Regions from separate parts of the Homo sapiens genome. Here region 1 is linked to region 2. The links come from fine-mapping of genetic effects on gene expression. Tissue or cell type: whole blood. Region 2 holds a variant in brackets; the other region holds the start of a gene. Each region is shown on its reference strand, or each on the opposite one. Region 1 holds the start of SIRT6 (sirtuin 6). Region 2 overlaps ZBTB40 (zinc finger and BTB domain containing 40).

The links. PIP is the estimated chance that this variant, and not a neighbour inherited with it, causes the effect. A credible set is the group of variants that fine-mapping cannot tell apart.
Region 1: SIRT6 starts here. The variant in region 2 is the best candidate, but not a certain one, in a credible set for the expression of SIRT6 in whole blood (TOPMed, PIP 0.85).

The regions. Positions count from the first base shown.
Region 1 is chr19:4,179,309-4,184,832 of GRCh38, forward strand. SIRT6 (sirtuin 6) reads right to left here and starts at 3,255. Exons shown (of 8, transcript NM_016539.4): 1 at 3,166-3,255; 2 at 1,474-1,601. The coding sequence starts at 3,231. ANKRD24 (ankyrin repeat domain 24) reads left to right here and starts at 3,381. Exons shown (of 22, transcript NM_001393985.1): 1 at 3,381-3,432. RefSeq lists enhancers at 3,229-3,318, 3,389-3,438.
Region 2 is chr1:22,499,114-22,504,113 of GRCh38, forward strand. It overlaps ZBTB40 (zinc finger and BTB domain containing 40), which reads left to right. Exons shown (of 18, transcript NM_014870.4): 4 at 2,379-2,571; 5 at 3,186-3,328. Among named protein-coding and RNA genes, the nearest start is that of ZBTB40, 50 kb to the left of the region's middle. The variant C/T (reference allele first, on the strand shown) is at 2,325.

The DNA.
Region 1 (5,524 bases), not on the chromosome of region 2:
GATGGACGGGGAGAGGGGAACAGAAAAAGAGACAGAGGGAGAATCAGAGAGGTATAGAGAGAAAGTTGGAGAGAGAGAAAATCAGGAGACAGAGAGAGACAGGGAGACAGAGAGAGGGAATCAGAAACAGAAATAGAGGGTGAGTTGCAAGAACAGGGAGAGGGGGATAGAACAAGACACAGACAGAGAGATAAAGAGTTAAAGACAAAGCAAGTCAGAGACAGAATTGGAGAGAGACAGAGAGAGGGAGAGGCAGAGAGAGAGAGATGAATTCACACGAAGGCAAAAATGACTTATTCTATTCAACCAACACTGCTGCTGCAATGAGCCCGACGATGCTCACATGGGCCCAAGCCCTGCCCTCCAGAAGCCCTTGATCTTGGGGGAGACAGGTGGACACAGATCCTCTGGCCCCAAGAGTCAAGCCTGGATCAGAGGAGGTACCTGGGCCTGGGGAAGCCCCGTGGAGGTGGGGGCCCTGGGGCACGTGGAAGGGCTTCCTGGAGGAGGCTAAGCAGTTTCTTGAAGGGTGAGAGGGAAGATCAGACAGAAGGGGTAAACAAAGGCCTGGGTGCTGGGAAGAGCCCATGAGTTTAGGAGAAAATGCAAGTGTTTTGGGGGCTGCAGCAGGAGCAGGAGGGGCTGAAGTTGGAGAGGTGATTCAGGGCTGGGGCAGGAAGGGCTTCAGCTTCCAGCACAAGGTATTCAGAACTCTACACTGCCTGGCAATGGGGAGCCACAGCAGGTTATGGAAGAGGAGAAGGAGGAGAAATTCACGCCTTGGCTTTTTTTTTTTTTTTTTTTTTTTTTTTTTGAGATGGAGTCTGGCTCTGTTGCCCAGGCTGGAGTACAATGGCATGATCCTGGCTGACTGCAACCTCTGCCTCCCGGGTTCAAGCGATTCTCCCACCTCGGCCTTCCAAGTAGCTGCGATTACAGGTGCCTGCCACCACACCTGGCTACGCTTGCAAATATGAAAGACTACATTTCCCAGCAACCCTTGCAGCCAGGTGTGATCAGGTGACCGTGTTCTGGCCAATGAGGTGAGTGGAATGCTGGTTGTGACAAGGGACACATCTTTTTGTTTTGTTTTTAGACGGAGCCTCACTCTGTCGCCCAGGCTGGAGTGCAGTGGTGCAATCTCGGCTCACTGCCTCCACCTCCCAGGTTCAAGCAATTCTCCTGCCTCAGCCTCCCGAGTAGCTGGGACTACAGATGTGTGCCACCACAACTGGCTAATTTTTGTATTTTTAGTAGAGACAGGGATTCACCATATTGGCCAGGCTGGTCTGGAATTCTTGACCTTGTGATCCACCATGCCCAGCCAAGGGACACATCTTAAAGGGAGTACCCAGGACACATCCAGGAGGAAAGCAGATGGATGTGTTCTCATTCCCAGATGTGTGTGGCTCGCAGGGAAGCCTCTGGCAGCCTGGTAGGCCTTGCCTCGACTTCCCCTGCACAATCACAGACCTGAAGTCGGGGATGCCAGAGGCAGTGCTGATGCCGGCACCCGTGTGGAACACCACACTGGAAGACTGCCAGACCAGCCTCGCCAGTTCCCACACCTTCCGCTCCAGCTCCTCCGGGGGGTCGAAGATCTGTGGGGGGAGAGAGCAGACGGAGGGGTCAAAACAGTTCCCCCAAGTGGCAAGGCCACGCACGAGCCACAGACTGAGCTGTCCCTGTCTTGCCTGAGGGAGGAAAATGGATTGGAAAAGGCAGCTTGTCCTCATGCCCCTCCTCTTCCTACAACCTTCCATGCCTCCCACCTGCCTTGTCAAAGCCCTAGCCCTTCCCACGGCCCACCAGGCCCTGCACTACCTCCCTTGCCCCCTCCCTGCCCTCTTCTCCTCCCTCTCCCTGCCTCACTCTGCTCCAGCCACACAGGTCTCCTCCTTGTTCCTCTATCACACCAGGCACAGTCCCGCCTCAGGGCCACACCCTTTAATGCTCTTCCCCCAGATACCCACATGGCTCCCTCCCTCACCTCCTGTAACTTGTGGCTTAGATGTCACTTCAGTGACAGTGATGCCTCCCTTGGCCAACTGGTTTCCATGCAACCCCTAGTCAGTCTCCCTTACTAGAAGGAGGGGTTTTTAATCTGTGTTGCTCCTGGCTGTGGCCTTAGTACCTAGAAAGTGCCTGAGCTACAGTAAGTGCTCTATAAATGTTGGTGGAATAAAGTGACTAACAGGCCGGGTATGGTGGCTCACGCCTATAATCCCAGCACTTTGGGAAGCCAAGGTGGGTGGATCACTTGAGATCAAGAGTTCAAGAGCAGACTGGCCAACATGGTGAAACCCCGCCTCTACTAAAAATACAAAAATTAGCCAGGCGTGGTGGCAGGTGCCTGTAGTCTCATCTACTCTACTCAGGAGGCTGAGGCAGGAGAATCGCTTGAACCTAGGAGGCGGAGGTTGCAGTGAGCCGAGATCGCGCCACTGCACTCCAGCCTGGGCGACAGAGAAACTCCATCTCAAAAATATAATAATAATAATAATAAAGTGACTAACAGCAGCAGTGAAGAGTGGGGCTTCTGGACGGGCGCACACCATCAGCGCTCATTAAATGCATGAGTCAGAATGCATGGGCCAGCCTTATGGAATGGGGCCATCTTCACCTCGTTTGCAGAAAGTTTGGAGATGGAGACCCAAAAGGGAAGTGACTTCCCCAAAGTCCCACAGTGCGTGGAGGGGGCAGCCGATCCCTCCACTTCCCCTCTGAGTGGCTGGAGGGATCTTTCTGGCACATTCTGTCCAGTCCCCTCGCCAGGGCAAAACCCTTCCCCATCACCCTCAGGATAAAGTGCCAACTCCCCAGCCTGGCATTTGAGCCCCGTCCTGGCCCGGCTCTGGAAACCTCCCAGGCCTAATCGTTCTCCAGGTGTGTTTATTCCCACCTCCCTTTGCGCCTGTCGTCCCCTCTTCCTGGAACTACATCCCCTCTCTCCCCGATCAGCCCCGACAGGGTGACCACAGAGTTGGGCGTGTTGGCGTCCCCCGGCGCGCAGGGGCGTCACTTCCCGCCCCTTCCTCACTGGGAAGTCCCTCCCATTGTCTAGCCTCAGTGCCCCCTGATATTCCCACAATGCCCCCCTGCCATCCGGCCGCTCCCAGCCCGCGGCCCTGGGGCGCGATGCTCGGGACCCTCAGACGCGCTCACCTCCGGGAGGCCGCACTTGCCCTTGTCCGCGTACGGCGACAGCCCCGCCGCGTAATTCACCGACATCCTCGACTGCCCCACGGGAACAATAAAGTTTCCCTTGTTGAGGCCGCTTCCGCCGGAAGCGGGGCGGGGCGGGGAAGAAGGAGGAACCGCGTTCCAGTCCTGCGCACCCGGCCTCCCACGGCAAGGCGCATGCGCCTCTTGCTGACGCCGCAGGCGACATGTTATCTGCTGTCAGAAGGAAGCCTGCCTCTTTGCATGCAGGTGTTTGCGGGGCTTGGGAAGGGGCTCCCCGATGACCCGGGCGGGAAATTGGGGCGGCCGCCTACGTGAGAGTTCTCCAGTCACCTCTAAAATGCGGGACACAGGCTATCCATGTCCCCACAACCCCTTTTACGGATTAGTAAATTCCGTAAGGACAGAGCCGGACAGCAGGGACCCCAGCCTAAGGGTTTTGAATGCCACGCAGAGTTACCTGAATATCTCATTTGTGTGTGTGTGTGTGTGTGTGTGTGTGTGTGTGACGGAGCCTCGCTCTGTTGCCCAGGCTGGAGTGCAGTGGCGCAATCTCGGTTCACTGCAACCTCCGCCTCTTGGGTTCAAGCGATTCTCCTGCCTCAGCCTCCCTAGTAGCTGGGATTACAGGCGCCCGCCACCACACCCAGCAAATTTTTGTATTTTTTAGTAGAGACGGGGTTTCTCCATGTTGGTCAGGCTGGTCCCGAACTCCTGACCTCAGGTGATCTGACCGCCTCGGCCTCCCAAAGTGCTGGGATTACAGGCGTGAGCCACTGCGTCCGGCCAAGTTATCTGAGTATCATCCAACTGGAGGTTCTGCATTCTGCAGGACAGGTCCTGCTCAAGGTCAATGGGGCTGGTGGCCTGGAGGACTCATTTAAGAATCATGTGTTGAGTACCTACTTTGTACTGGGCACACTGGAGAGCAAAGGTGGTACCATCTATGCCCTGGTGGCTGCGGGTGGACACAAACATGTGACCAGGTAATGGTGACATGGTGTGGTTGGGGTGCAATGGGTGATGCAGAGGGCACAGGGCAGTGAGGGGGCTCACAGGAGGCACCTGACCCAGGCTGGGGGCATCCGGGAGGGCTTCCTGGAGGAGGGGATGTTGCAGCAAAGATCTAAAAAGTGAGTGAGCCGGGCGCAGTGGCTCACACCTGTAATCCCAGCACTTTGGGAGGCCAAGGCAGGTGGATCACCTGAGATTGGGAGTTCGAGACCACCCTGACCAACATGGAGAAACCCCGTCTCTACTAAAAATACAAAATTAGCTGGGTGTGGTGGCCTGTAATCGCAGCTGCTCGGGAGGCTGAGGCAGGAGAATTGCTTGAACCCAGGAGGCGGAGATTGCGGTGAGCCGGAGATCGCGCCATTGCACTCCAGCCTGGGCAACAAGCATGAAACTCCGTCTCAAAAATAAATAAATAAATAAATAAAGAGTGCATGAGTCAGGTAGAGCCGGTTGGGGTGACATGAAGTACAGAAAGAATGTTCCTGGTGGGGGGAACAGCAAGTGCAAAGGCTGAGAAAGAGGAAGAGCATGGCTCCTTCCAGAAACTGAAATCAGTCCAGTGATGATAGGGAAGATCGTGGGTGTCTTCCCGCCAGAGCCAGTTGGCCAACAGGCAGTCCGCTGCCAGCCTGTCTCCTCCCTCGGCTCATCCCCGGCCCCCTGGGGCGGCCGCCTGCTCAGAGCCGATCAGGTGTCAGAGTGGAGCGGCTGGAGCTGCTCGTGGCCCAGCTGGGAGTGGGTAACCGGAGCCGGCAGTGGGCACTGTGGCCGGGAGCTCGGGGCACTGGAGCTGCAGGAGGTAGGGGAGGAAGGAGGTGGGAGAGGCCCAGGACGGAGGATCCCCTTATGGCCCCAGGCCCCTGAGCCCTTGTATGTGGGAGAAAGAAGCCGTGCTGAGTCCTAGCCAGGCTGCGGAGCTACCCAGGTACCCTGACACACACATGCACTCGTTCACCCACGCACTTCCCACTTGCCGGCCTGTGCCCTGCCTAGCTTCCTCCAAGGCAGGTGCTCAACATCCCACCCGGCCATCAGGCCCTTCTTATTTACCATCACCTCTTCCAGCAAGCAGCTTCCTAAATTTAGCAGGCGTTTCTCCCTCCCCCAAGCCCACGGATTGTCTTCTCCCAAGCAGCCTGTGAACTCCTCTGTTGGGTGTCTTATTACCCCCTGCTTTGGGTGTGATTGAATCCTCCAGTCAGAGGTAGAAGAAAAAAGGGTAGGTAGTGAGTGAATGGGCACCGGTGGAGGGGTAGATGAATGGATGGGTGGGTGGATGGATGGGGGGCGAATAGGTGGATTGGTGGTTTGGTAGATGGGTGAA
Region 2 (5,000 bases):
GGGGAGTATCTTTTTCTAAGCCCACTCTCATGGCTATTGGCAGGCTTCAGAAGATCCACTTCCAAGCTTACTCCCTGACTGTTGGCTGGAGACCAGTTCTTTGCCACATGGGTGTCTCCGTAGGGCAGCTCACAACATGGCAGCTTGCATCTCACAGAGCAAGGGCAGAGAGAGAAAACACAGGCAAGATGGAAGTCAAACTAGCCTGACCTCAAAAGTAGCATCCTGTAACTTTTACCATATTCTGCTTCTTAGAAGCAAGTCACGAGGTTCAATCCAACAGCATGAATACCCAGAGTCAGGTATTAGGGTCCATTTTAGATGCTGCCTGCCTTGGGTTCCCTACTGCTGTCAGTGAAAAGGCATTTTAAAGAGATTTCAAGTCAACTAACAAAAGCATGAAAAGTTGATTTAATTTAGCTTTCAACTGACGTCTTCATTTTTTGTTTATTATTTTTTAAATACAAGATGAGTTACCTTAGGTTCTCAGAAGTTTCTTACGCTAGTGATATGTTGATGTGGATTATTAAACTGTGTTTTGTCTATGTGTACTTTTGGAGATGACTGAAAAACACAGGAAACTTTTAAAGTTTAATTTAGCTTTATACAGACATCCTGTGCTTAGGAAGCAAGCTAAAGCAAAGCCAAGAAACACAAGGTCTAACTCGTTTATAATTTCTATTTGGGAGGAGAGGAGAAAGATAAAATCTCTCTAAATAAAAATCTTAAACATATACTTACTACCAGAATTTGTAATAACAGCTGTCTAGCTAAATTTTGCTGTGTTGATACAGTATTCATGAGCTCCTTTAGTGTGGTGGGGAGACGTGTGTGTGTAGAAAACTAACCTTTTGCTCTCTAAAGACTCTGGTGAGAAAATTTTTCTATTTTATAATCTTGACACTAAAAAACATCAAAGGTAGATTGTAGTTTTGTCAAGTAGAAACATAAAGCCTATACATATGACTGTACACGTGAAATTCAGTTTTGGTTACCAGATTTTTTCAAGTAAATTCATTATTGCTAAAGCAGAAATGTGAACCTTACCTTCCAATTGACCTTCCTCGCATTTGCGTGAGAGATGTTCTGTCAAACCAAAGAAAGGAATGCTAATTTTGTTTATTTTACCACTGGGGTTGTTGATGTCTTAGAAGCATCTAGAAGAGTCAAGATGATGAGTTTGGTTTTATATGCGCCCCTGAGACCTCTGGAGGACAAGGTGTGTCCAGCAGAATCTGTGTGGCAGCTCTGGATTGAAATAGTGCAGGGTTAGAGCTGCTTTTCAGAGAAGTTTGCATAAAGGTGATAGTTAAAGCTATACATGTGAGAGCTTTTCAAAAGGGAGCATATAAAAGGAGAAAAAAATAAAAGATTGAGACCAGTCGTAGGTGCTGTTAATGGTTATGGATTTGGAAGAAGAACCAGTGGGAAAGGCTGAAAAGGAGTGGTCAGGAAGGCAAGTTCTTATCCCACATACTTCAGTGCTGCTGAAATCGGAAGAGAATTGTGATACAGAGGCACTGCCAAGTGCCACCGAAAGGTCAAGTGGCACAAAGCCAGAGGCAAGGCTTGTTGTATAAACGTTGGTTAGGGGAAGAATCTGTGAAGCCCCTTCAGGCTGAAAGCAGTCATTCACACGGGGTAATTAACATGTGAGTCATATGTTCTTACAGCTGGCAACTACAAGCCAACACACTGTTAGCCTTAATTGTTACAGACTATATCTAAAATTAATAAGGCCCGTGTCTTTTTAAGTAGTCTGTCATTTATAATGTAAATGATTTAAGGTATTCTTTTTTCCTAAATTGTGAGATTTTAATTGCATTCTCAAATAATAAAATGACAGTTCATTAAATTTAAATTCAGACATCCCTGCCCATGAAATACTTAAAATGCCAGATTCAGAAAGGTATAATTAGGTAAGAAGTGCATTAAGTTTATTAAAAATTCACTGAGCCCCTACTGTGTGCCAGGCTATGCTATTTGCTGCGGATACAGAGCCCTAGAAAGCATAATTCCTGTCTTCAAGAAGTCTAGTAGGAGAAAAAAAAAATTATAATATAGTGTGACAAATGTCAAATTAAAAGCAGTGAAGAGGAGGTAGGGCCTGTGGCCAGGAAAGGCCTCCCAGCAGAGGTAACCCCTGAGCAAGGTTAGAGCATGGAGTCGTGGAATTGGAGTCCTCCAGAAGACAGGGGCAGGAGCATGGGACCGCAGGGCTTGTTGGAACTGCTGCTGGGGAAGAAAGTGCAGTGGGTGAGGAGCTTCAGGAGAAGCTGGCGGGAATCAAACTGTTGAGGACCTTGTTTGCCAAATGCAAGGAG[C/T]GGATGGTTCTTGTGGTTCGCTAATCTATCTTTCTGGGTACTTTTGTTCCATAGATGATAGTGAAATGTTTCGAGGGTGAAGGAGGACATTCAGCATTCCAGAGAATCCTGGGTAAAGTAAGAGAGGAAAGCCTGGATGTTCAAACTGTTGTGTCCCTGTTGAGGCTGTACCAATATTCTAATCCTGCAGTAAAAACAGCACTATTAGACAGGAAGCCAGAAGATGTAGACACAGTGCAGCCAAAAGGTAGGAGAAGATCCTATGCATTGGAATGGCAGGGTTTTATTTTGGGATGATGCTATGAAGTTTGTTCCAATGACATGTTTCTTTGGTGGCTTAGTTATTAAGTGGTTTTCACATAAGTTTCACATGTAAATTCCAGAAGCTGCATGTTAAATATACACCAACTAAATTTGAGTCTCCATTTCTATCCCACAGTTAACTAGTCTGACACCTTGAAGTTGGAGAATATCATCAATGTTCTCCTGCCCGTCAAAAAGCCACACATCCAAATCAATGACTTGAGTACCCAGGTTGGACTGGTTCGCTGACAGCACTTTAAGGCTGAAGTTTCTCTCATTTGGGTTAGGTACAAAGCAGTGGCCTTGCCAACCAGAAGTTAACCTCTGGCTGGCTCTGCAGCTTTGTGTTTCGACAGATAAATGAAACATTTTTCCTTTCATAGAGTTTAAACAGAATAATAAAGTATTTTCCTCTGTAAAAGCGATTCTGCATTCAGGTGCTCAGAATAAGCTGAAAATCACTTTACTATTCTGTTAGATCTCTCTTGACAAACCATGCTGTCATTTTCTTCAAATTGACTAGCTTCTCTTGTGTGTCTCTAACTCTTTCTCCCCCAGGGAGCACAGAGGAGGGAAAGACCTTGTCTGTTCTGTTACTAGAACACAAAGAGGACCTGATACAGTGTGTAACACAGCTGAGACCTATTATGGAGTCCCTGGAAACAGCCAAGGAGGAATTCCTGACTGGCACTGAAAAAAGGGTAACTGTGTCAAGTGTCTCCTCCCTCCTCCTGAATTCATATAGCACTTAAAAAAATGCTTTTGTGGCACATAGCACTTTATACTTTGCAGTATTTTAATACATACTGCATAGTAAGCATCTCGAAGTCAAGGTGCTTGTTTCATATCCTGTTGCATTCCTCGCGGTAGCTTGCTGAGGGCCTTGCACATGGAGCCATAAGGAAAATGGATGGATGGATGGATGGATGTGTGGGTGGGTGGATGGATGGATGGGTGGACAGTTGGACAGATGGATGGATGGACGGACGGACGGATGGACCGATGGACAGATGGATATATGCTATTCCTGCTCTGACTCAGTTTTTACTGTAAACAACTGTATCCAGAATTAAAATGTTAAGGAAATTTTGTAATTATTATGACACCTTTCCTCTTTATAGAAATGTACTGTACATTTGGAATATGTAGAAAATGGGGAAAGCAATCAAAAAGAAAAAATTCAGATTTCTCCACTCAGAGATGACACTGCTAACAGGCTGAAGCATGTGTTCCCCTCTTTCTCATTTGAGTCATCCCAGGATGAGGTTATATAGAACATATGGTTTTCTAACTTGACTTTTTACCTAATATCTTAATACATGTCTATACCTATAATATGGATTTCGTTTCTTTATCATTGAGCATTAGTATCCTTTTTTTTTTTGCTATTAAAAGTGATGTTGTGAAGAACATTCTTGCACATAAATCTTTCCATACCTCTGAAATTATTCCCTTACTATAATTTCTAAGAAGTGGAATTTTGGAATCAAGAGTATAAAAATTTTCAAGCGTTTGATATATATTGCCAAATTGCCCTTCAGGAAGGTTGTACCAATTTACTCTCCCACCAGCTAGCTGCTAAAATCCTCATAAAACTGCTGGCATGACTTCTCAAGGCAACTAGATAACTATGTTTGTTGGTGTTATTGATTTCAACTTTGTGCTAAAAATACTTTTATATCTGGAAGGAAGGAATAGGGATAGAGTACTTTTGTGGCATCAATTCCTAAAACCGTGGGAAGCGACTTAAGTGTTCAGGAGAGAAAACGTTTAGAAGCCACTGATATAATGGCTAAGCCCTGAATTTACAGTGAGGACTAGATCCTCGATTTTATTTTTCTCAGTGATCTTATGTTGCACATGTGCGCACGCACACACACACACACACACAATGGAAACAACCTTTAATCTCAGAATTACATTTTGTGATTTAATTGTTTTTAAATTTTTAAGTCCTTTGAACTTCTTAGAGAAAGAAAATATACAAAGATTAAACTTCTGTTTTTTTTCTCCTTAGTCTTCAAATTAAGTGTAATTTCAGGCACTCAATTTAAGTAAGTTGCTTATAGCTCTAAAAGTTCCTGATTCCCTCTTTAGTGATTTCATTCGATTACTCATTCAGACCTTTTTCTTTTTAGCTAGATTGAATGTGTCCTTTGAACTGTTTCATTATCTTGGTAAAACAGCATTTATAGATAGAGTCCAAACTCAGCTTCATTCTCTGCAGCAAGATAGACCACACTGTCATTTTCTTCTGTCACTTTCAGTTTACTTGACAGAGAAAGCTGAAGCAGAAGAGCTTAAATTAGTTATAAATCACAAAAACACTTCTTAAGATTGGGGTTCCACCAGAGCTTCTTTAAGTGATTCCTT